Regions from separate parts of the Homo sapiens genome. Here regions 2, 3, 4 and 5 are each reported to be linked to region 1. Evidence: microRNA targets listed by miRTarBase, many of them from high-throughput screens and not tested one by one. Region 1 holds a microRNA gene; each other region holds the end of a gene's coding sequence. Distances are between the middles of the regions.
What was found. The annotated mature microRNA hsa-miR-6504-3p reads CAUUACAGCACAGCCAUUCU and lies in region 1 at 1,541-1,560, shown strand. An mRNA with a match to its seed (bases 2 to 7 or 8) in the 3' UTR can be bound and repressed. Matches are read on the target gene's strand: a 7mer-m8 pairs with bases 2 to 8, a 7mer-A1 pairs with bases 2 to 7 and ends in A, and an 8mer does both.

Region 2: the mRNA of RBM41 is a reported target of hsa-miR-6504-3p. Seed matches in the 3' UTR shown: 7mer-m8 at 4,182-4,188.
Region 3: the mRNA of AHI1 is a reported target of hsa-miR-6504-3p. Seed matches in the 3' UTR shown: 7mer-m8 at 3,786-3,792, 7mer-m8 at 3,596-3,602 and 7mer-m8 at 3,458-3,464.
Region 4: miRTarBase lists ANKS4B as a target of hsa-miR-6504-3p. Seed matches in the 3' UTR shown: 7mer-m8 at 2,049-2,055, 7mer-m8 at 2,978-2,984 and 7mer-m8 at 3,113-3,119.
Region 5: miRTarBase lists NSUN4 as a target of hsa-miR-6504-3p. Seed matches in the 3' UTR shown: 7mer-m8 at 2,688-2,694, 7mer-m8 at 3,174-3,180, 7mer-m8 at 3,547-3,553 and 7mer-m8 at 3,677-3,683.

The regions. Positions count from the first base shown.
Region 1 is chr16:81,609,847-81,614,952 of GRCh38, forward strand. MIR6504 (microRNA 6504) reads left to right here and starts at 1,502; the gene lies at 1,502-1,562. All of the region lies in intron 2 of CMIP (c-Maf inducing protein), which reads left to right.
Region 2 is chrX:107,063,306-107,068,411 of GRCh38, reverse strand. RBM41 (RNA binding motif protein 41) reads left to right here. Exons shown (of 8, transcript NM_001324242.2): 8 at 719-5,106. The coding sequence ends at 885. Among named protein-coding and RNA genes, the nearest start is that of RBM41, 53 kb to the left of the region's middle.
Region 3 is chr6:135,281,548-135,286,653 of GRCh38, forward strand. AHI1 (Abelson helper integration site 1) reads right to left here. Exons shown (of 29, transcript NM_001134831.2): 29 at 1,985-4,100. The coding sequence ends at 4,098. Among named protein-coding and RNA genes, the nearest start is that of MIR548A2, 45 kb to the left of the region's middle. RefSeq lists an enhancer at 1-1,367.
Region 4 is chr16:21,249,787-21,254,892 of GRCh38, forward strand. ANKS4B (ankyrin repeat and sterile alpha motif domain containing 4B) reads left to right here. Exons shown (of 2, transcript NM_145865.3): 2 at 1-4,064. The coding sequence ends at 1,034. Among named protein-coding and RNA genes, the nearest start is that of ANKS4B, 19 kb to the left of the region's middle.
Region 5 is chr1:46,360,871-46,365,976 of GRCh38, forward strand. It overlaps NSUN4 (NOP2/Sun RNA methyltransferase 4), which reads left to right. Exons shown (of 6, transcript NM_199044.4): 6 at 700-4,148. The coding sequence ends at 976. Among named protein-coding and RNA genes, the nearest start is that of NSUN4, 23 kb to the left of the region's middle. RefSeq lists a silencer at 3,833-4,033.

The DNA of each region.
Region 1 (5,106 bases):
TCTGTTGGGCGATGGCCAGATCACCCAGGCCTTGCCAGCCAAGTGAAGAAGCCTCAGACCCTCTTCCAAAGGCAATAGGCAGCCACTGAAAGCTCTGAAGGGGTAGAGGGACACTAGAGGAATCAGTGTGGTGGCAGGGCAGAGGGGCCTAGATCTGTGCATGACAGAGAGGCAGGAGGGAGCCCCTTGAAACATTCCAGTTGGAGGAGAGGAGGCCCTGAGCCTCCACTTTCCTGCTCCACCAGCAAAGGGGCCTCATTCCTTCTGGGGCTGGAGGGGCAGCCCTGGCCTCCAAAGGAGGCCAGAGCATCACTCGCCACAGGGATGGAGGGGCAGTGAGGCTGAAAAGCAGAGAAGCAGTGCCTGGAATGTCCCTTTAACCCGGCTGTGGCCGCGGGCCCAGCTGTGATGACTCGCCTGGCCGCCGTGTCTGGCAGGGCTTCAGGACAGAGCTGCCGCCGTGGTGCTGAGGAGCCGAGCGGGCGGGGAGCCTCTAGCTGCTCCAGCATCCCACTTGCTCACTGCCCCCTGATCCCGTGGACAGCGCAGTCAGAGGCAGGAGCAGGAGAGGAGGAAGCAGAGGAAAAGGAGGAGGAGGAGGCGGCTTGCAACTCCTCAGATCCAGAGCCGGACTCCGAGCTAATGAGGGAGCAGCAGACACGGCCTCCCAACCCTTCCCCCAAGGGGAACCCAGGTGGGTGCAGCCCCTGCCCCTGGCGGCTGTGGTTCTCTCCCTGGCTGCCATTTCCGTCAGGGGAGGTAGACCTGGATCGGCTTCTCCCTTGCTTCCCTCTCATCCTCACCCCCACACTCTGCCCACCGTGATGCATGGGTGGTATGTAGCTGGCTCATTCTATAAACAGGGCTAGCGAGTCTGTGTGGTTCTAGGGAGGCTGGGGCGGGGTGCACTTGGCCCCTGGTGTGGTACTCAGGGCTTTCTTCAGTCCTGGTTGTATTCACGTGCCTTTTGTGACGGGTGGCAGGACCCTCTGCTTTGAGAGGCTGTACTTTGTCTTGATTCACATACAACATACTGTATTAGATCCCAGAGCCGTGGTGTCACAGAGAACAACCCCTTTGGCCCTGGGGACAGATCTTCCCTGCTCCAGGGTGGGAGAGGGGACCAAGAAACAGCCAGGTGCCCATCTGAACGGCATTACCTTAGTGCTCCTAGTCAGCAGATGAGTGAAAGTGCCTTAAATGGTGCCGCCCGGCACAGCCACCAGCAGCCACGCATGGCAGCCCACAGATGGATTTAATTTACTCATCAAATTAATAACACAGTTCCTCAGTCCCGTTAGCTACACCTCCAGTGGCCAGGGGCCACACATGGCCAAAGGCTGCTGTGTTGGACAGCGCACATAAAGAACATTTCCATTGACACACGAAGTTCTGTGGAGCAGTGCTGACCTCGAGGCCTTTTCATTTTGACCTCATACTGCAGGCACCTGAGCCCCTCCTGGGGCGAATCACGTCAGATCACAGGGGGCTCTTCGATCTTGCAGTCTGGCTGTGCTGTAATGCAGTCTGCACCCTGCTGCATTACAGCACAGCCATTCTCTCTACAGACAAGGGGAATGGCGGGGCCCAAAGAGGGCTAGTGCCCCTTCCCTACCCCAGCCTGCCTGATCTCTCTCCATCTCTGTCTCTTTCAGGTTCTTTGCATCCATGTGTGTCTGTTTTCCTCTCTCTCATGCCTTTTCTCCATCTCTCTCCCCTCCTTCCCCTTCTGTCCCCTCCTGCCTCTCCTCTTTCTCTCTCTTTAGTCCTTGCTGTGGCTCACTCTGGGCTTCTCTTGCAGGTCCTTCCTCCAGGCCTCTCACCACCTCTGAGCCTGTCCCCCAGTCCTCTCTGTGTGTCTCTCCCCTCTTCTCTTCCTCCTCCTCCGCTCTCTCTGTCTTCTAAGGAGCTCTTTGTAAAACTCTTACTTTGTTAGAATTTGAATCAATGCCTCTTGCAGACCTCGGGGAGCTGACCTGATCCTTCAAGGAAGGCAGAGAGGACATTCAGGCCCATGCCCCTCATCCCCAGCTCAGAGACAGAGCAATCTACCAGCAGGTTGAGTTGGCAGACAGAGGCGCCCAGCCTTCCAGCGTGGGTCCAGTTGGTGTGTTTTGGATGCTTTGTGTTTTCAGCGTGAGCTCCCTCACTGCCATGTTATTAGAATCCCTCGTTGCAGAAAGGGCCTGTTTATCCCATTTCCTCCATTGATGCCCTTTCTGCTAGCATTTCATTGTGGGGAGGCCAAGCATGTAAGTACATAGACAGTGTCATGAAAACGTCCTGAAGGTGCTGTCACTGGCCCCTGGGATGGGGTAGCAGGCATTAAAGAGCAGCGCGGCGCAGATCATCTTCTGGGGGATTCTGCCTAAAAATTGAGTGGCTGCCCATCAGCAAAAATTAGACAGAGCCGCTGCTCCACAAACAAGGCTTCAGGCAAGATAAGAGCAGGGAGACCCTCCTCCCAAGAGTGTCTGCTTCTTTCGGGGATGGGTTCCGGGACTCGGCTCTTCTCACCAATGTTCTGGAAAGTCCTGCAGGAGGCGGGGCAACTGTTTACCCCAAACATTGGCAGCAGGGCAGGGACGGGGTGGGTTCCTTTCTTACTGGAAGGTAGCAAGCAGGACTTTTCCGGTCTGGAAAGCACCAGAAAGGTCTCACTCTCTAGCTTCCAGTAAGAAAGGAAGCTCCTTTTCCCTAAGAAACTGGGCCGGGGAAGGGGAGCTTGGAAAAGGTCGCTCACAGCGCACCCTGGGCTGTTTTTCTCACCTCTCAAGACAATGCAACAATGAGAAAGAACTTGGCAAGTTTGGGAGAGGAAATTGGGCAGCGTTTGCCTGGAACCAGGCCCTTTCAGCATTCCAAAGATTTAACACCAGAAGTCGGAAGCCTGGAACCAGCTGCCCGCAGGCTTCCGGGGGACTTGGGGTCTGGCTGGGGACCTCTCCCATGTCTGAATGGATTCTCCTCTGAGTGACCCTCAGGGTTGGGCTGGGGGACCTTTCCCAGGTCTGAATGGATTCTCCTCAGAGTGACCCTCGGGGTTCCAGCCATGCCTTATGTTCCCACTGGGCTGAGTTCTCTTGGCTCAGCCACCAGCAGGACAGTATGGGGACTCTGCACAGAAGCGTGACCCTTCCCCCAGCTGGAACGCAGCCTGGTCAGCTTTCCCTTTGCTTGGAAGCCCCTTAGAGATGCCTGTGCTGGGACTCAAGACATTGCCTAGCAGCGTATGTCCTCCTTCAAAAGTAGACAAGCCAAAGGAACGAGCAGTTTACAGTCCGGCCTTGTCCCAACCTTTTTGGCTCCATCAGCCTCCACCTGCTCTCCTAGAGGCAAGTTCTGGCGCTTCCCTTAGTTTCAAGGTGAGGTCTCCTGCGTGCCACATCCTTCCTCCTCCTGCTTCATCAGTAGGGCAGCTACCATGGAGAAATAATGCTCACGGATGTCCCAACCCAAGTCCTGGGAATCCAGAGGAGCTCAGATGCATTGCTTCATGTTCCAGGGCTGGATTGCAGGGAGGGAAGACTGTGGGGTCAGACAGACCTGAGTTCCTGCCCAACTTCCCTGGGCACTAGCTCTGGATCCTTAGACTCTAACTAGCCATGGAACCCTAGGTTTTACCACATTCTAGCTGTGGAACCCTAAACAGCAGGAAGAACCTCTCTGGGGCTCATTTAATTTATCTGTGAAACGCACTCTAATACTTGTCTCCTTGCATATTGTGAGGCTCGTAGATATTACATGTAAAATACTTAGCACTGTGCCTGGTACTTAGTAGGTGTTCAAGAAAACACTGCCATGATCATTTTTAGAGTCTTAGTCAAATACAGTTTGGGGAAGAGAGGGAATCAGAGCTGAAGAGTTCTTTTGAAGGTCTGTTGTGTGTGGACTTTCTTCGCTGAGCAGAATGGGTATATGAATGCCCCATTCATCCATCCATCTATCCGCCCACCCATCCATTTATCCATCAGACTGTCCATCTGTCTTATCTGTTTTTCCATCCATCCATGTCTCCATCTATCCAATTCATTCATTCATTCAACACTTCAACCAATCTTTCACTTAACAAACATTTCTCCGGGTTTCATGGACACAGTGGTGCCTAAGTCAGACGTGGTTCCTGACCTCCCAGAGCCCATAGCCTGCAGAAGAAGGACAACTAGACAGGCGATTCCAGGACAGTGTGATGCGTTAGGCGAGGCATTCTGGCCTGGTTTGGTTGGGGATGGGGAGGGGAAGGCACCATCAAGACAGTCATTCTGGAGAAGTGGCATTTCAGGAGGGACCTGAAGTGTAAGTAGGAGTCCAGCGGGCAGCGGAGAGAAGGGGGTGACAGCAGAATGTTCCTGGTGGGGGAGTACACGCTGCATGGAAGCCAGTCTGAGAGCAGGGCAGGCCAGGTGCTGCCACAGTCACCAGCGACCACGCATTCTAGGTGGCTGGAAGCGGCACGGCATTGTTTCTAACTTGTGCTGTGTGTCCACCATGGGCCAGTGGGGGAAGGGAGTGTGCCAAGCGGTGCACGGGTTCTCAGGGGCTCCCACGCGCGGGCCACGGGTCACTTCAGCATGACATCAGCTCGTTGCATTGGCCTGTGTGCTTGCCAGGAGCCCGGAGGGAAGAGACCTGGAAATGACACAAATGATGACCCCAGCAAGTCTGGGTGTGTGTGTGGTATATGCATTGGTTTCCCCAGTGGAAATGTGGCAGTGGAGGAAAGGTTGGGTTAGACCTGGGTCCTTAAGCCGTGGTCCATGGTAGATTCCAAAACTACCTGCACAGTCCTGCGTGTGGGACTGTGGTGTGTGTGTATGTATGTCTGTATGGTTTATGTGTGTGTGTGTGTGTATGGTATGTCTGCATGTGTGTGCGTACACATGTGTGTCTCTGTGAGTGTGTATGTGTCTATGTCTGTGGTGTGTGTGGTATGTGTGCATGTGTGTGCCTGATATGTGTGTTTATATGTGGTATGTATATGTGTATACGGTGTGTATGCACATGTATCTCTGTGTGTGCATGTGTGTGTGGTATGTGCATGTGTGTGTGTCCTGTGTCTATATGTGGTGTGCATAGTGTGTATCTCTGTGTGTGGTGTGTGCATGT
Region 2 (5,106 bases), not on the chromosome of region 1:
AGCAAGTACTTTAAAATGTGTAGCTGTTTTACTAATCTTGAAAGCTATACACTTAAAAAAATTTGTAGTACTTATATATATGAAACAAAATTGGTTTAGTCTACTTGTCTACTTAGGATTCCACAAACTCCTGGCCACAAATCATCCCTTCCTTATTTCTTACATCCAGGCTCTTAGACCCATAAGTTGAATACTCCTGGCATGTAGTATATATTCTCACATTTCAACCTTCAATATGCCTACAAGTGTTCTTATACTTATTTATCCCAATAAGGTGGCCCAGAACCACTCTCCCACTGAAAAAAAAGTGGCAAAGTGCCCTTGATAACATGATAACTTCTTTTGTGTTACTCATTTTGAAAATGATTGATTCTAATAATACCTATAATCTGTTACCTAAGATAGAGACTTGTGTATAATTACTAATAGCTTAGACTTCTTTAGCACGCTGCCTATGTCTTTGTTTCTCTACTTGTTTCTTTGAATTAGGAGACACCCTCAAACACCGATTTTGAGTTTTTATTGTTATTATTTTTGCCATTAATTTAATTTTGCTTAATAATGCAAATGGGAGATTATAGAAAAAATGATCAAATCAAATGACTATATGGCCTTATAGCTTACATTTAACTCCAAGGCAAAATAATCTAAACTAAACCTGGAATAGAATTGAATTATTAAGTCCTATGTAAATTGAAATTTTTTCTTTCTCTTTTAGATAAGGAGATAGCATGGCAAGCATTGCATCTAGTAAATGGATACAAACTACATGGGAAAATATTGGTGATAGAGTTTGGAAAGAACAAAAAGCAACGGTCAAATCTCCAAGCGACTTCTCTCATATCATGTGCTACAGGTAGCACTACAGAAATTAGTGGTAGCTAGAATATATATAAATTGTGGGTCCTGGATGGTCTTTCTTGAATTGGAATCTTGGATCTAGGATTTATGTATAGACACCAGTTTGTTTGGAGTTGAAGAGGAAAAACTAACTGAGGGAGGGGAAAAAAGTAATTTCAGCTTTTGGAGAGAACTGGTAGAAAACATTTTCTATTATATAATTGAAGACTATATAGGACAGATGATATGCTGAGTATGAAGGGTAAAGTGCAAAGAGTATTATTTTCTCAGGATGAATTACAACGGATTATTCCTAAGGATTTTTAAAAATCTTTATAATTTTTCTGGGGTCCTCAATATTTGTCTCTAGAGATAACATTCTTTCTTAGACTGCTTCGTATACACAGAAATAAAAAACTAATTAAATGTTGAAATATTTCTTTACTAGAGCCCATTTGCCATATTTCATCCACCTAGTAAATAAAAGAGTAGGACCCCCAGGCCTAAGCATCAACAAATGCTATTAAGTCAGAACTATCAGCAGTAATAGTAGGTAGTTTCATAAGTCAGTTGACTTATTTAATGAATGCTTCCTCCACAAGTTATCAGTCTTCAAAAAGCTATATATTTTTCTAGTGAAATATTTTAGATCAAAATGTTGGTGTTCTCACAGCCATTTAAGCTAGCAACCATTGAGTATCATTGAATTCATAGCAATAAACATTGATTAAGTGTCTAATATATGTTAAATATTAGGCATATGAATTTTAGAAGAGGAACATACAAGCAAAGAATGCCAAACGGAAATGGAAATAAAGCGTTCTCTAGAAAAGAGGATGCCAGTCACAAATCCCCCAGTTGTTTGTTTATGGTTGCTGGAAAATAAAAAAACAATATACAGAGAGGAAGTAGTACAAACTGGAGTCAGACCTGTACAGCCACACTTAACATTCTATGACCTTGGCAAGTCACTTAATCTGAGCCTCACATTTTTCATCTATAAAGTGAGGATAATAATGCTACTTACCTCACTGGGTTGTGAAGATGAACTGAGATATTATCCAGGCTGAAGAACAGAAAGGAAAACAATGAATAAAATTGAACAAGAGTATAGAACCTGTGTGACACCATTAAGCATTCCTACATATTTCTAATGGGAGTACAGGAAAAAAGGAAAAGAAATGAAGGAGCAGAAAAATATTCTAAGAAATAATGGCTATAAATACCCCCGATTTGATGAGAGACATTAACCTATACATCCCAGAAGAAAAAGAAATTACAGACAGATACATCATAAGAAAAATGCTAAAACCCAAAAACGAAAAGAAAATCTTAACAGCAATACGAGAAAAATGAGCCATCACTTACCAAGGAACCCAAATAAAATTAGTAGTTGACTTCCCCTCAGAAACAATGGCAGTGGCAGTGGAATAACACATTCAAAGTGTTCAAAGAAAATAACTGTCAACCAATAATCCTATATACAATAAAACTATTTTTCAAAAATGAACGTGAAATAAAACATCTCACATAATCAAAAACCAAGAGAATTTGTTGCTGGCAGACCTGACTTGCTGGAAATACAAAAGGAAGTTCTTCAGCCTGAAAGCAAGTGACCACAGACAGTAATCTGAATCTACACACATGCAGAAAAAGAGCACAGGCAAAAATAATTATGTAATTATCAGAAACAATCTATGCATTTTTCTTTTTTCTCTTAACTAATGTAAAACACAGTTGTATAAAACAATATGTATATAGTTGCATCGTTTGGCCTATAACGTATAAAATATAATATATTTGCCGATAACAGGTTGAAGAAGCTGAGTGGAAGCAAAACTGTCTTGTACTAAAGAACTGACTCCAGATGGTAAGACAAATCCACAGGAACAAATGGAGAGAACGTGAAATAGGAAATAAGTTTAATATAAAAAAACTATAAACATATACTTACTCTTCTCTCAGCTTCTTTTAAAGATGTAAAATTATATTAAGTAATTATAATAATGTGTGTTGGGTTTGTAATGTATAGGAATAACATATATAACAATAATACCACAAAGCGGGGGATGGGTTTATATAGGAATAGGGTTGTTACATTGGAATTAAGTTAGTGTTTATCTGAAGCCTATTCTGTTTAGTTAAGATGTGTATGGTAAGCCCTAGAGCAACCACTGAGGAAATAACTTTTAAAAAATCAAAAATATTATTAAATGTAAATATCACATTATGAAATAATGCAAAAGAAGGAATGGAGAAGCAAAAAGCTTGAGGCATATCAAAAACAATAAAATGGCAGTCATAAGTCTTCCTATATCAAAATAACAATGTGCATGGATTAAGCAATACTATAAAAGGCAGAGATGTCAGAAACAAGTCTGATTCCACTTCATGCCATCTATTTGAGACACACTTTAGAAGATAGAAAGAGATTAAAGGTAAAAGGATGGAAAACAAATATATCACACAGACAACAGCCATAAGAAAGCTGGAGTGGCTATTCTAATACCAGACAAAATAGACTTAAAAAAATGTTACTGGAGATAAAGAGTAAAATGTTACAATGATAAAAGGGTCAATACATCAGGAAGATGTAACAACTATAAATATATATGCATCTAACAGTAGAGCCCAAAATACATGAAGCAAAAACTGAAAGGAAAGGAGAAACAGATAAGTCCATAAAAAGAGTTGGAATATTCAATACCCCTTTTTCAATAATAGAGCACCTAGACAGAAGATAAACCAGGAAATAGAAGACTTGAACAACATTATAAGGCAAATTGACCTAAAAGACATCTATAGAACTTTCCACCCAACATCAGAATACATATTCTTCTCGAGTGCATATGAAACATCTCCAAAATAGGTCATAAGTTAAAGCATAAAACAAGCCTTAATAAATATAAGTAGACTGAAATCATGCAAAGCATGCCCTCTGACCACATGGGATGAAGTTAGAAAACAATGAAAAGTTGGGAAACTCACAAATATGTGGAAATCAGACACACTTGTAAGTGACTGGCTGGGTGCAGTAGCTCACGCCTGAAATCTCAGCACTTTGGTAGGCCGAAGTGGGAGGATTCCTTGGATCCCTTGAGACCAGGAATTCAAGACCAGCCTGGGCAACACAGCAAGACCCTGTCATTACCAAAAAAAAAAAAAAATGTGTCAAAGAAAAAAATCATAAGGGAAATTACAAAACCCTTTGAGATGAGTGATAATGAAGACACAACAAACCAAAACTTACAAGATGCAGCTAAAGCAGTGTTTACAGGGAAATCTATAGGTACAAATGCCTGTACTTAAGAAGAAAAAAGACCAGGCACAGTGGCTTACGCCTGTAATCCCAGCACTTTGGGAGGCCGGGGCGGGTGGAGATCATGGGGTCAGGAGATCGAGACCATTCTGGGTAACATGGTGAAACCCTGTCTCTACTAAAAATACAAAAAATTAGCCAGGCGTGGTCGTGGGCACCTGTAGTCCCAGCTACTCGGGAGGCTGAGGCAGGAGAATGGCGTGAACCTGGGAGGCAGAGCTTGCAGTGAGCCAAGATTGCACCACTGCACTCCAGCCTGGGCAGCAGAGCGAGACTCCATCTCAAAAAAAAAAAAAAAAAGAAAAGAAAGACCATAGCACTAACCTCACTTTACACCTTAAGACCCTGGAAAAAGAAGAGCAAACTAAACCTAGAGCCAGGAGAAAGAAGGAAATATAAAAGATTAGATGAGAATAAATGAAATAGAGTGAAGAAAAGTAGAGAAAAATCAATGCAACCAAAAGTTGATTCTATAAAAAGATCAGTAAAACTGACACACCTTCTGCTAGACTGACCAGGAAAAAAGGAGAATCAAATTACTAAAATCAGAAATGAAGGAGGGAACATTTCAACTGAACTTGTAGAAATAAAAAAGATTATGAAGGCATATTATGAATAATTTTATGTCAATAAATTATCAATGAAGTGGACAAATTCCTAGGAAGACACAAACTACCAAAACCAACTCAGAAGTAGAAAACTTGAATAAACCTATATCAAGTAAATAGGTTAAATGAGTTTTTGAAAAGATACCCACAAAGAAGAGCCCAGGCTGAAATAGCTTCTTAAATGAATTCTACAAAACTTTTAATGAAAAATTAATACAAATTCTTCACAAACTTTTTCAAAAAGTAGAAGAGTGGTGAACACTTCTGACACATACTACAACATGGAAGAACTCAGAATATGCTCAGTGCAAGAAGCCAGTCACAAAAGACTACATATTA
Region 3 (5,106 bases), not on the chromosome of region 1:
ATCATCCTTTGATTGGCAATATTTGAGTTTACTTACATAAATGTTTTATAAGGAAACCATTCTTAAATTTTCTTCTATTCTTTCATTGGGCTCAAATCATTTTTATGAAGAAATGAACTACAGTGAGTAAAAATCATATTGCTTAGTACTTTTAGAAATAACACTGAAGTATGTATTGGAGCATTTTGACCTAAGTGATAAGAGGTAGAACATGAATTATGTGTGGTGTACATATCCCTTTTTTAGATTGACGAGAAACTAAAATTGATTCTTAGCAGCATTAGCCTCCCTAGCTTTTCGAGACGAAAATAACCCATCTATAATCAGTATGAATTTGAGGTGTTAGAAGAGCAACTTTAGAAAACCCACTGCTCACAACATATGCTTGATGTAGATTTGAAGGGGATCATTAGAAAAATAGCATTCTTTGTGTTTACAAAACAAATGTTTTTGTTATCCAGTTCCCGCCTTAGCTTAAAGTATTTCCTATTCACAATAATTAGAGCAGAAGGATATGAAGAATGAAGTGCCTCATTACCAAGTTTGCTTCCTGGGCCTCGGCAGAGAGTAGCTGTCTGCTTTTGCCTAGTTAGTCCATTGTTAACCCTAAATGATGCTGACATTCAATTCTCCTGCATATAATTGTGTCCATCCATAGAATGAGTTCTCCAGTCAACACAGCCTTTTGATTGACATGCTTCTTGATGTTTTTATTCTCTCATATATGACTGGAATGGCGCCTTTTCGGTTTCTTGAATAAAATGTTACTGTACATGTAATTAGTTTGATTCTACAGAATCTGTTTCTTAAGGAAACATAATTATAGTATGGAGTAAAGATTTACTAAAATAATTATGATAAACAAATGATCAGTTTTTTTTAAAAAAAGTTCACTCAGATATATTTTATTTTATTTAGGTCACTGTTGAATGACAAACATTTGAGATGTTTCTAGTCCCTGAGTGTGGTCATAGGCACATGCCAACTGCTTCCTTACTCTTGTGTGTGTTGTCATGTCCAAATATCAGCATTTTCCTCTCCACAGCAACTGAGATCCAGTACTTTACAGATCACCCAGTGGAGTCTGATATCTCCATTTGCAACTAGCAGTGGCTGGAGTTGTGCAGTTGGAGAAGTTACTTAACCTTCAGAACTTGGTTTCCTTAGTTCTAGAGCAGGGAAGATTTTATCTATCTCATAGATTTGATGTGAAGAGTAAATGAAGTCATGTACATAATAAAGTGAGGATTTGGGGACTATTTTCGGTACAGTTCAATTAAATAGAAACGAACAAATATATAGCTTAAAACATTTGGATTGCTTAAAAGTGTTTCCATAATTCACTAAACAGATATGGCCATCAGATGGAAATCATTTGAATACACATAGAAGTGTAAGGTCACAAACTTTTGTTATAGTTTCTAGAACTTCCTAACTCTTAAAAATATTTGTGGCTAAATATATGACTAAAGTGACAACATGTCACATGAAGCTATAAAATGGTAAGTTATTTCTCAAATATAGTCTTGCTGAGCTTCCTAAAGACATCTTTCTTTAATTAAATTCTTCTATAATTTAAAGATAATATTAAGGTCAAGTATTCATTTGTATGTGATAGAAACCCTGCACAAGATTTCAGAAGTACCAAGCGTTAGCCATTTAAAAGCACTGATTTCATTTAAAATATGCATTTTAAACATAAATTTGCATTCACTGTGTAAAATATTTCATGTTTTAAATCTTTTAAAAACTTGATTTTTATTCTAGCTTTCCAAGTCCTATACATAGTATCATTTCAATACTGAAGAAACATTAATCTTCAAGACAGAGTTGGATGAATAACTGGGCAGTGCATTTCCAACAATGGTTTAAAAATATTATTTAGATATAGAAGAAGACAGTGTCAAATTGTTACTTGTTTGGAGAAAAGAGATGACATGGGATAAAATTCAGTACTTTCAGAATAAAGATAAAACAAACCCAATTTGTTATAAGGAAATGTTTAATGCCGTACATCATCAAATGGATTCTGGTGTCTGATTTTCTGCTTGATTATCAGCTGGATCTATTGCTTGGAGGGCACTGTCATGATCTCCCCCACCCCATCTCATCTCAGATTGTGTGGTAAAGAAACATCTTTTATTAATCTATTCATGAACATAACCCTAGTCTTACTTTGTCAGCGAGACAAAGGGGAAAAGGACTGGGCTTTCAGTAGAGCCAAATTTTCCTGGTGTTTGCTTCAACTGCTATTTTTCTCTTTAGTAGTTGCAATATAAAAACAACCCTTTATTTTTCATATAAACATCAAGAGCTTAGCAAATGCTTAGCTCCCCCTGACATATTTTTCATTCATCTTAAATTATTTCTAAACTTGTTGAAATTCTTGGTGATTCAATCAGAAAATCAACACATATCTCAAAATTATTAGCTGAAACTGCAGAGAAACAGATATTTTTATTTTTAAATTATCAAGTGCATTCACAAGACAGAAAAAAACAAGCTTGTACAAGAGTGACTCAAGCTGGCTGGGCCCAGCTGTACCTGACACACAGACTTATACATCCAGAACAATGAAAACTCAGTGCCATCAGAACAGACTTTTGGGCGGATGGCTGTAGGCTTCACCAGTTATCAGTGCCACTCAACACTTTCAAAAATGCCTTTTTTTTAAAGTTCTACACAGCGGGACATGTTTACCAATTTTTATGCCTCTACATGTGCAGGGATAAGAGCCAAATATATTTTTATTAGAAGATATTTCACACTGGGTATACATCTGGGCAAAATTTACACCTCAATGCCCAACATTGTTTTTCTCACTTCTTATTTTAATGGAATTGACTGTCTAATTTGGATAGGTCTTTCTAATTTTATATTAGTTTTCACTTTCTTGGGGTTAAATATTTTATCAGCAGACCTTATCACACACTTGAGAAAGGAGTCAAGAAAAGAACAAAAAATGAATATCCCATTATAATATCAAACTTCAAAACATATAGTCTATAATAATGACACTATTATTCTGGAACTTAGAAAAAATAAATAATGCAATATAATAATGTAAAAATATTAAGATTAAAATAAATATTAAACAATGTAAGTCTACAAAATAGGTATGTGCTTAAATATGAAAAGCCTTTTTTAAAAAGTAAAGACATTGGGAACATTGTTGCCAGTCCAGCCAAAAATCACTTTTAATTTAGGTCTATGAAGTTACCTATATGATTTGATCTTAAGAAACACAAAATTTTAATTAGAAAGTAAATTGTTTTCTTTTAATGTCTTTGTTACTGAGACTGTTTTGAATGCGCCATATTCTAAAGCTGCTTATCTTTTTTGTTTTTTGGAGATAGAGTCTTGCTCTGTCCCCCAGGCTGGAGTGCAATGGCGTGATCTTGGCTCACTGCAACCTCTGCCTCCTGGGTCAAGCAATTCTCCTGCCTCAGTAGATGGGATTACAGGTGCCTGCCATGAGACCCGGCTGATTTTTGTATTTTTAGTAGAGATGGGGTTTCACCATGTTGGTCAGGCTGGTGTTGTTGAACTCCTGACCTTAGGTGATCCACCTGCCTCAGCCTCCCAAGGTGCTAGGATTACAGGCATGAGGCACCGTGCCCAGTCAGCTGCTTATCTTTTAAATAAAGTGAATTTCAAAAACAGATACTTCATATTCTGGGCATAGCATCACACATACAACCATTACCAATATAATAATATTAAATGATTACTTAACAGACATCCTAATAACGCAAACACCTTTTATTCACATTTGCTGAGTAGCAATTACAGTGTTTTCTTCATTAGTTTTCCAACACTGGTAATGTAATTATGATGCAATTACTAACAATATAAGTACCAATACTTTGACCAACAATAGTCACAATGGTTTATAACAACTGAACTCAAAGGCCACGTTGATTTTTCCACCCACAACTTGATTCTGATTTTTCTAGAGTCATTCATAAGAACAAGAAGTAGTGGATCCTTTCTTCCTCCTTAGTATCTGAAAATTCTGAACTCTGAAGAGAAATTCCATTTGGTTTGTCATTTTCACCTCTGTGCATTTCGGCAGCTCTTAACTTTTCTTCAATTCTTTACTGGAAAGAAAAATACACAAAATGTACTAAATAAACTTGAATAATGTCTTCTGACTACAACCAAATCTTAGTGTGCTCAGGCAACAGCACAGGTAATAAAGGACATTGTGTAAAACACAAACACATACAAACACAACTAAAAAAGACCAAAATACTAATTTCCTATCTTCTAGTTTGCCTCTCAAACATTGTTAGCATCTTTTTGTATCATTAGCAATTGTTTAAGGCCTGCTCCTGCATTGACAGGTTAATGTAAGCAAGAAAGAAATAAAATCCCCAAATATAGACACTAAAAACTCCAAACCATAAGTAACTTCCAGAAATGAAGAGCAGGCAATCAGAGTATATGAAATTCTTCATTGAATGGGAAAAAAAGTCCTCATGGATGATATTCAGGGTTAGTGATTCGGAAGGATACAGATAATTTTATTAAATAGCATTCTTTCATTTAGTCTATGGCTATGCCTACTTTTATATAATTAGGTTATTACATTTTTCAAATCAATTAAAAAATGGGCTGTCTCATTTTTGACCAAGATAGTAACAATCAAGCATCCAGATGTGGCTTTGATGTAAAACAAATTATACAATTCATAAAAATCAAGAACCAATATGCAGATGAAACAAGAAGTTGCTTCCTTAGACAGCATGTAGTATTTGCACTACAACTAGTGTGAGATAAATTAGTGGGGCTAAACCTAACATTTTTTAATGCAATCATTCATACAGCATTGATAAGTTCTGGACTTACACAGAAAGGTTACTGTCCTTCTTCTAAAGAGAAAGGCTTAACACCTGGTTGTCCTTAGAAAACACACGGCAGTTTCAGAACGATGGCAAATCTGGTTAAGGTAGCAGTCAACTCCATCGACCACTCCTGAGAAAAGTGACAGCTGGCACACTGTGGCAAGAAAGGGCAATGGCTAACCATTCCTGAAGGGCTTTCCCTGGGGGCACAGGAGGTGTAGGGGACACCTGTGCTTTAAGGAACAGGCCCAATCTTAAA
Region 4 (5,106 bases), 60 Mb from region 1:
CCAATGGCCATGCCCACTGCGTCTCATTCCTGGTCAACTTTGGTGCCAACATCTTTGCCCTGGATAATGACTTACAGACTCCACTGGATGCTGCTGCCAGCAGGGAGCAGAATGAATGTGTTGCTCTCCTGGACAAGGCTGCCACTGCACAGAACATCATGAACCCCAAGAAGGTCACCAGGCTGAAGGAGCAGGCTCAGAAGAATGCCAGGAGGCAGATCAAAGAGTGTGAGAGGCTCCAGGAGAAGCACCAAAATAAGATGGCCCACACCTACAGCAAGGAGGAATCCGGGACTCTCTCTTCTTCCAAGGGTACCTTCTCCAGATCATCCCCTTCAAATGCTTCTGCTCCTGGCACATTCGGGTCACTATCTAAGGGCATTAAAGACACTTTCAAGATCAAGTTCAAGAAGAACAAAGATACAGCAGAACAGGTGGGGAAGGAAGGCAGAAGTGGGCAGAGGAACGTGATGGAAGTGTTCAGAGAGGAAGAGGAAGACTCGTTCTCAGGGGACTTCAAAGAGAAGCTCCAGTTGTCAGCAGAGGAGGACGGCAGTGTGCACCATGAATCCATTCTCAATCGTCCAGGTCTAGGAAGTATTGTTTTTAGAAGGAACAGGATATCGAGTCCTGAAGACATCTCAGATAGCAAGAGAGAGTTTGGTTTTAAACTGCCCAGTGAATTGCTTCAAAGACAAGGAGCATCAGAGGCTGATGAGGGTGCAGCTGATGAAGAGGGAGAGGAAAACGGCCTCAAAGATGATCTGCCGTGGGATGACGATGAAGTGGAGTGGGAGGAAGATGTGGTCGATGCCACGCCCCTGGAAGTGTTCTTGCTGTCTCAGCACCTGGAAGAATTCCTGCCTATCTTCAAGAGAGAGCAGATTGATCTAGAAGCTCTGCTGCTCTGCTCTGATGAGGACCTTCAGAGCATACAAATGCAGCTGGGTCCCAGGAAGAAAGTTCTGAATGCTATCAACAGGAGGAAGCAGGTGCTTCAACAGCCTGGGCAGCTGGTCGACACCAGCCTGTGATGGAGAGTTTTGGCCTGGAGCATTGGGGTGATGCTGTGGCCCGCTGGCAGCACTCCAGGCGGCACCCCCTCTTTACCCAATGCCAGACCACTGGGAATGGATTCTAGGGCATCGGAAATGCCTACCTGAGAGAGAGACCCAAACTTTACTCTGGGAGGTAGGCTATGCCCATCCAAATAAATCTCCATGAGAAACTTGAGGAGACTTCATAACAAGAATCTGGCATTTCTCTTCAGTTATCTTATATGTACATATAATTGTTTTTGTGGTTGTTTTGTTTTGTTTTGTTTTGTTTTTTGGAGATGAAGGTCTCAGTCTCTTACCCAGGCTAGGGTGCAGTGGTATGATCATAGTTCACTGTATTCTCAACCTCCTGGGCTCAAATGATCTCCTCCCACCTCAGCCTCCCAAGTAGCTGAGACTACAGGTTCACACCCCCCACACCTGGCTTATTTTGTATGTTTTAGTAGAGGTGGGGTCTTGCCACATTGCCCAGGCTGGTCTCAAACTCCTGGCCTCAAGCAATCCTCCCACCTCAGCCTCCTAAAGCACTGGGATTACAGGTGTGAACCACCGTACCCAGCCTATCTTTTTGATACTTTTGAATAAAGAAAGGGTCATATGCATGACAGGAAAATGAAAGAAACTTCCTTTACTTTTCTATCTCTGGATTTAAAATTATAATCTCATCACATTATCCTGCTGCTTGCTTTCCGATCTGTGTAACCTGGGAATTCCAATTCTTTTTCTCTCCTGAGATCTATGACTTTGCCTAGTGGTAGAGACTAGAGTTCTTTCCTGGCCTGCGGCTTGATGCCCAACTTAAATGCATCTAACCCTTTAACAAATGTGTACATGTTTACAAGTAATGGAAATGCGTCTATAATACTCCTGCCTGAGAATAGAGACAGAGTGGTGGTGGGGAGAGTGAAGAAAGAGATAGAATACAGGTGGTACCTGTTGTGGACTGAATTGCGTCAAATTCATATGTTGGAGCTCTAACCCCTAATGTGACTGTAATTGGAAATAAGACCTTTAAAGAAGTGATTAAGGTTAAATGAAGTCATAAGAATGCAACCCTAATCCTGTAGGACTGGTGTCCTTTTTTTCCCTTTTTTTTTTTTTTTTTGAGATGGAGCCTTGCTCTGTCACTCATGCTGGAGTGCAGTGGCGTGATCTCAGCTCACTGCAACCCCCGCCTCCCAGGTTCGAGCACTTTTCATGCCTCAGCCTCCTGAGTAGCTGGGATTACAGGCGTGCACCACAACGCCTGGCTAAGTTTTTGTATTTTTAGTAGAGGCGGGGTTTCACCATGTTGGCCAGGCTGGTCTCAAACTCCTGACCTCAGGTGATCCACCTGCCTCGGCCTCCCAGAGTGCTGGGATTACAGGCATGAGCCACTGCACCTGGCCTAGGACTGGTGTCCTAAGAAGAGGAAGAGACACTTAGGTGGAAGGCACACAGAGAGGCCACGTGAGGACACAGTGAGAAGGTGGCCGTCTGCAAGCCGAGGAGGGGGCCTCAGGAGAAACCAACCCTGCAATCACCTTGATCTTGGGCTTTCAGCCCCCAAAGGTGTGAGAAAATAAACTTCGGTTGATAAACTGCTGTTGTTGAAGCCATCCAGTCTGTGGCATTTTGTTATGGCAGTCCTAGCAGAATAATACTGTCCTAAGTAAGAGGGTTGGGGAGGAGACCAAGAAAAATACAGAAAAAAAGTCTGTCCAACTGCAATTGATGAGTTTTGTAAGGGTAAACACCTAGTGAAACTTAAGGGGAAAAAAAACTAAGTTCTTTGGAGGGAAGATTTGATTGTCAAAGGAAATTTCACATTTTCATGCTTATTATGTACACATGGTTTATTTACTGTTGTCTGTCACCATTGCCGCATATCTGAATATGTGTAGGTTCCACGATAGAAACTGACAACACTTGGCTCATGCCTGTAATCCCAGCACTTTGGGAGGCCCAGGCAGGCAGATCACCTGAGGTCAGGAGTTCAAGACCAGCCTGGCCAACATGGCGGAAACCCGTCTCTACTAAAAATACAAAAATTAGCCAGGTGTGGTGGCGTGTGCCTGTAATCCCAGCTACTTGGGAGGCTGAGGCAAGAGAATTGCTTGAACCCAAAAGGTGGAGGTTGCAGTGAGTTGAGATTGCACCACTGCACTCTAGCCCAGGCGGTAAGAGAGACTCCATCTCAAAAAAAAAAAAAAAAAAAAAGAAAAAAGAAACTGACAACACTGCTGCTGACATTTTTTCAATGGCAATCCCAAATTCAAACTGAAACCCCACTGAAGAGCTAAGCTTCATTAGATCTCTACAGGCTGACTTACATCAAGTGGAATTTACTGTTGATTCTGGGTATAATACAGAAACAGCTGTTTATCTTCAGCTTGCTTTCTGATGCACATCTGTTTGGGTTACTTCAAGAGGCATCATGGAGGATTCAAGTTTAGGGAGGATACAGATGCTCAAATCTGATGAACAATTGGCTTATTCTTCCTCAATGAATATATTCAGAAAGCTTGTTAGCCATTGAATAAACACGTTGCATTAGGGGATGATTGTTTACAAATACCTTATCTTGTGGAATAAACTGAAGTTGTGCTTTCCTTCATTAACGTGCACAGAAGCAGTTGGCAAATAGAAAGTGCTCAAAAAAGTTTGTAGTCTGTGCCTGCCACTATTATATTTCATCATCATAGATGCCAGAATCCCCTCTTCACCTATTGCCCGGAATCTGCCTAATGAGATATTTGCTCCACCCCCTGCTGTAACTACATCATAGCAAGAGAGCCATCACTCAGGTTGGTAGAAATGAACTTGAACATTGACTCTCATCCCTTTTTAGGAGATATTTGCCACTAGGGGTCTCATCAGGTACCTCTATGCTCTTCTTAGGGGTTCTTTTCTTTTATGATTGACAGAATTAATAGGTGAGCGTTCTCCAAAGTTCTCAGCATCAAGGATATAGTCTCTTCGTCACAGAGTATTGTTATATAATAAAAAAAGGTTTATACCATGTTATAAGATGTTATCAATGTTCTAAGAATTCCAGATCTTTCGAACTAAATACCAACTACAGGGGCTAAGAGAAGATGCCAGAGCAATACAAAGGCCTTGATAAGAGACAAAGACAAGAGGATTATGAGCCAGGATGAGCTTCAAGTACTCACTGATCTCAGACCTCCATCTCTTAAACTAGATGCTTAGAGTAGCTCAATCCAATATCTGGTCACCCCTACCACCTCCTGGCCCCTCTTTTCCCCCTCTATGTAGCTTGACATAAAAGTCAACAAGAGGGAAAAGCAGCTGGGAGCATTTCACCGAAGAGGAGAGTTTGAGAAGTTATAGTGTGGTAAATGTGTATTGTGCTTATATTTCAGGCCATTGTGTAGTACAGGTCAGTTATATGCTCAGAATTCCTAAGTCCAAGTTACCAGCCCAGACCATTGCTTTGGGCACCAAATACTTAAGCCCAAATCTAATCTGACATCTCCTCTCACATGTCTCACAAGTACCCCATACTCAGTGTGTCCAGGACTGAACCCATTTTCTTCCAGGTTGTCAGTTCTCAACTTGGATGATTTTGCCCTCTGTCTCCTAGAGGACATGTGGCAATATCTAGAGACATTTTTTGATTGCCATGATAGGGGAACAGTGGTGCAACTGACATCCAGTGGGTAGAAACAATGGGTGCTAAACATCCTAGAATGTACAGGACAGCCCACCACCACAATGAATTATCGAGACCCAAATAGTGATCGTGCTCAGTTTCAGCTGCATTAAAACATGCAGCTCTAAATCTTCATTTTTCATAAATGGAAAATTTAACCCAATACTTCTTTTCATCACCCAATTGGTCACCAGGCCCTTTCAACTTTTCAATATGTCTCAGAGCTAAATCCTCTTTGATGTTTGCAAGATGACCTATTGGTTCCTGCCCCCAACCATCACTCACTGGATTGCTGTAAGTATCCTTATCTGTCTTTAATTCATTCTCCACAAGGCTGGTTGAGTCACGTAATCTTTTTAATATGTAAGTCTCTTGTCACTTTCTACTTTACTG
Region 5 (5,106 bases), not on the chromosome of region 1:
CTCTGGGAGACTGGGGGACTGGAAGCTCTTACCAAGACCATAACCCACACAAGAATCTTATGGCTGGAGATCTGCCTAGAGGAGACAGAAATGGGATCATCTCTGGAACATAAAAACCCTATTTGAATTAGCTGGGTGTGGAGATGCACACCTGTAGTCCCAGCTACTCAGGGGGCTGAGGGAGGAGAATCACTTGAACCTAGGAGGTGGAGGCTGCAGTGAGCTGAGATCGTGCCACTGCACTCCAGCCTGGGTAACAGAGCAAGACTCTGTCTCAAAAAACAAAAACAAAAACAAAAAAGCAACCCTATCTAGTAGGATATATATACTAGAGTGGGCTGCACAGATTGACTCATGCTATTTCATCCTCAGTACCAGTGAGTAGCACATGTTTGAAAAATAGCTGCTAGAGTAAGGACTCATTCTATAGCCAGCATAGCAATTTGGTCCATAAACAAGAGCTCAGGGGGTCATTGTAAGGAGACTTCCTAGTGAAGAGCTCATGGAGTAAGGTTGGGTTGCTATCTGCCTTGAGAGTGACTTTTCAGACAGTGTCATTGTGGAAGGGACTTGAGAGGCAGTCTAACCAGCTACCCATCCTGTAGTAGCCTTCCCTTATCCATGTTTCCAGCTCCTTATGTTGCTCTTCTACTGCTGGGAAGCTCACTAGTAACTGCTTCTGTCTCTTTCTGGTTTCAGGGCTGGACTCCTTGCCACCAAACCAGGAGGCCATGTTGTCTATTCTACCTGCTCACTCTCACACTTACAGAACGAGTATGTGGTGCAAGGTGCCATTGAGCTCCTGGCCAATCAATACAGCATCCAGGTACAGGTGGAAGATCTGACTCACTTCCGAAGGGTTTTCATGGACACATTTTGTTTCTTCTCATCCTGTCAGGTTGGGGAGCTGGTAATACCAAACCTCATGGCCAATTTTGGCCCCATGTACTTCTGCAAAATGCGTAGGCTGACATAGTATCACCCAATCCCTGAAGCAAGAATACAAAGGGTATACTCTGTTGGATGCACCAGAAACTGGAAACTGGGACCAGTGGCAGAGATGCACTCTCGGTCCTGTCTCCATCCTGTTCGTGTCTTTCTGCAGTTTTCGGCAATAAGAAGTAGAAGATTTGCTGTCCTGCTGTCCAATTGTGGAGCATCAGCAGGTTTCCAACTCACTCATTAACCCCTACCCCATCTCCAGGCCTGTACTAAAGTTTGCTGCCCGCTTAGGGGCTTAGAAGGAGAAGCCAGTGAGCAGGCTCACACTAAGTTGTAAACATAGGAGAAGCATTTGGCCAATAAAGTTGTTGAAACTCTATAGACCTGGGGCTGCAGTTGGGGACTTCATGTCAGTGCAAATGCCATTAGTTCCATTTGTACCAGCCAGTTACTGAGCCCCTGTCACCCTTGAAGTGAGTTCCACCTGACCAGTCTTGAGCAGCCAACAGGCTCAATTAAGCCCGCCTGGTTTTTCCATATGGCTCATGATCTAATTTAAGGAACAAGTAACTAAAAATGTTAAGCCAGTGCAAAATAATCTGCTTACCTACTCACATTGGAAAAACCCTCTGAGCTGAATAATTCTGGCCATTCCTGCTGTCAACAATACTGCTGCCCAAATGTGGCTTAGGAGGCTGCTTCTGCCACAAAACCGTCATACTCTTGTGCGTGCCTTGTTCTTTGTTCATTCATCTAGCAGGTATTCCCAGACCTCGTGTATGACAGGTAGCTAGGGAGCTCTTGGAGATGTAGCAGTTGGGATTGTGGGAGATTACTGGGCTTCCTCATCCTTTAGAATGGTAACTCTCCTTTTGCTTTCTGAACACCTAGGAATTTCCTGATGTTTTGTTTTGTTGGATTCCAGACTTTTTGTTGTTTCTAGTCTGCAGCTGAGCTCTGGTGCCTGTTCTTTGGCCCACCCCCTAATCCCTAACTCTTCCCTCAGCATCACAGGGCTTCACTGCACACACTGTGTTCAGGGCAAGATTTCATCATTTACTGACTGCATACTCGATATGTTGTTTTTGTAACTTTAGCCAAAAGAAAGTAACCTTTAGTGGCAGGGATATAAAAAATTGCTCAGGGTCACTTGCAGATATTTTATTTTTAAACTTTTTTTTTTTTTCCTGGAAAACATCCTGTGCAGAAAAGGGTATATAATTTTAGAATACCTGAAGGCTTCTTGGCTTTTCCACTTTCCTTATTCCTCCTCTTCCTGCCACTCTTTTTGTCCCTTCTGTCTTTCCTGCTCATCCTTATTTGGGTATTAGAGGTGTCAGTTGAGGAGGGACTTTAGCTGAGGTTAAGCCTTCTTTTGGGATTTGCATTGTAATTGAGGGCCCTGGAAGATCTCTGAGACTCAAAATCAGGTGAAGCTAGGAAGATGGAGCTTTAAGGAGCATGGCTAGTGCTCTGAGTAGGACCGTAACCGCCTCCGTGCGTGGCATATGGTCCCTGCATGCTGTTCACTCTGTATAGTACTTAGTATTCGCTGAGGCTAAGAGGCCTCAGGTGCCTGGGCTTCTGCCCTTGGACTCCTGGATATCCAGCCTAGTGCTAATTGAATGCTAAGCAGTGGTAATTCAAAATGAGAGGGTCCCCTGCCTCTAGAGTCATCATCTAATTGGGGACAGGCAGACCTAGATAAGAAAAGCAGAGAACTACTTTGGAAAACAGTTTATCTGCTGTAATTGAACATTCAGCTACCCTATAACCCAGTTAATCCAATACTGGGGATAAATCCTAGAGAAACTCATACATGTACACCAGGAGATGTGTACAAGAATATTCATAGCAACCCTATTCACAAAAGCAAAAGCCTAGAAATAACCCAGATGCCCATGAGCAAGAGAGTGGACAAGTAAACTGGAATATTCACATAATAGAACATTATACAATTGTCAAATGAACTATAATGATACCTAACCATATGGATGAATCTGAGCAATAAAATAATTAAGTGAAAAAAGTTTAATCCCAGAAGAGTAAATGTAGCATGATGCCCTTTCTAAATGAAAGGTTTTTTCTTTTCTATGGAGTTATTCTTTACATACAATATAGTTCATAAATTTTAAATATATTGTTTAATAAATTTTGATAATTGTATATAATAGTATAGTCACCATCAAGATGTAGAAAATAGAAAATAGGCTAGGCACAGTGGCTCACGCCTGTAATCTCAACACTTTGGGAGGCCAAGGTGGGAAGATCACTTGATCCCAGGAATTCTAGATCAGCTTGGACAATGTAGTGAGACCTGGTCTTTACCAAAAAAAAAAAAAAAAAAATTAGCTGGGTGCGCTGGCATGTGCCTGTGGTCCCAGCTACTCAGGAGGCTGAGGCAGGAGGATCACTTGAGCACAGGAGTTTGAGGCTGCAGTGAGCAGCCTGGGCAAGAGAGTGAGACTCCGTTTTGTGCCACTGCACTCCAGCCAGGGTGACAGAGTGAGACTCTGTCTCAAAAAAAAAAAAAAAAAAAAAGGCATTGGGATTTATAATGTGCTGTTTAAAGTCTGAAGCTCGGCCAGGTGCGGTGGCTCACGCCTGTAATCCCAAAACTTTGGAAGGCTGAGGCAGGTGGATCACCTGAGGTCAGGAGGAGTTCAAGACCAGCCTGGCCAACGTGGTGAAACCCCATCTCTATAAAAGTACAAAAGGGCATGATGGCAGGTGCCTGTAATCTCAGCTACTCAGTAGGCTGGAGCGGGAGAACTGCTTGAACCTGGGAGGTGGAGGTTTCAGTGAGCCAAGATAGCGCCATTGCACTCCAGCGTGGGCGACAGCAAGAGACTTCATTTCGATAAATAAGTAAATAAATAAATAAAGTCTGAAGCTCCACTGGTCACTCCTTTTATTGATTATTTGCAGCTGGTCTAACCAGTTACGTATGTCTGGCTTGATTACATGGCCAGAGCAACATAAAAGCCCTGCTGGGAACTTCTGATTTGAGCTCTTCCAAAACCAGGATGGATGCCTCACATAGATCATGATGATTCAATCCAAAGGCACTTTGCAGTGCAGTCCACATGTGCATAAGGACCATGGGGAGCTTGTATTTGGGAATTCTGAGATTCCTGATGTTTACCTACCTAGTCTTTCTCTTGCTGCCCTGTATCCTTTGCCTTTAAATAAAAATCTTAAGTGATTATGCTCTGTGAAGCCTGGATAATCCTTTCAAATATTTGGTCTTGGAAAATTTTTGCATATATACATGGAATCATACAATATGTAGTCTTTGGTGTTTGACTTCTTTGACTTAGTGTAATGTTTTTGAGATTCAGTTTGTTGTGAGTATTAATGTTTTGTTCCTTTTTATTGCTGAATTGTATTCCATGGTGCAGACATACCACCATGTTGTTTATCTGTTCACCAGTTGATGGACATTTGAGTTGCTTCCAGTTTGGGGCTATTATTAGTAATGCTGCCAATACCTTTTGGGCATATAATTTTGTGAGTACGTGTTTTCTTTTCTTTTTTTATTTTTTGAGATGGAGTCTCACTCTTTTGCCCAGGCTGGAGTGCAATGGTGCAATCTCAGCTCACTGCAACCCCCGCCTCCCAGGTTCAAGCGATTCTTCTGCTGCAGCTTCCTGAGTAGCTGGGATTACAGGCACCCACCACCATGCCTGGTTAATTTCTTTGTATTTTTAGTAGAAACGGGGTTTCGCCATGTTGGCCAGGCTGGTCTCGAACTCCTGACCTCAGATGATCCACCTACCTCGGCCTCCCAAAGTGCTAGGATTACAGGTGTGAACCACTGTGCCCAGCCCATGTTTTCTTCTGAGTAAATACTTAGGGGTAGAATTGCTAGGTCATATGGTAAATGTATGTTTAACTTTATAAGGTACCACCATACTGTTTTCCAAAGTGGATCTACCATTTTGCACGGCCATCAGCAATGTATGAGAGGTCCATTTGCTCCACATCTTAGTACTAACACTTAGGATTATCAACGTTAAACTTTATTGTAGTGGGCCGGGCAGTGTGGCTTATGTCTGTAATCCCAGTACTTTGGGAGGCCGAGGCGGGCGGATCACTTAAGGTCAGGAGTTCAAGACCAGCCTGGCTAACATGGGAAAACCCCGTCTGTACTAAAAATGCAAA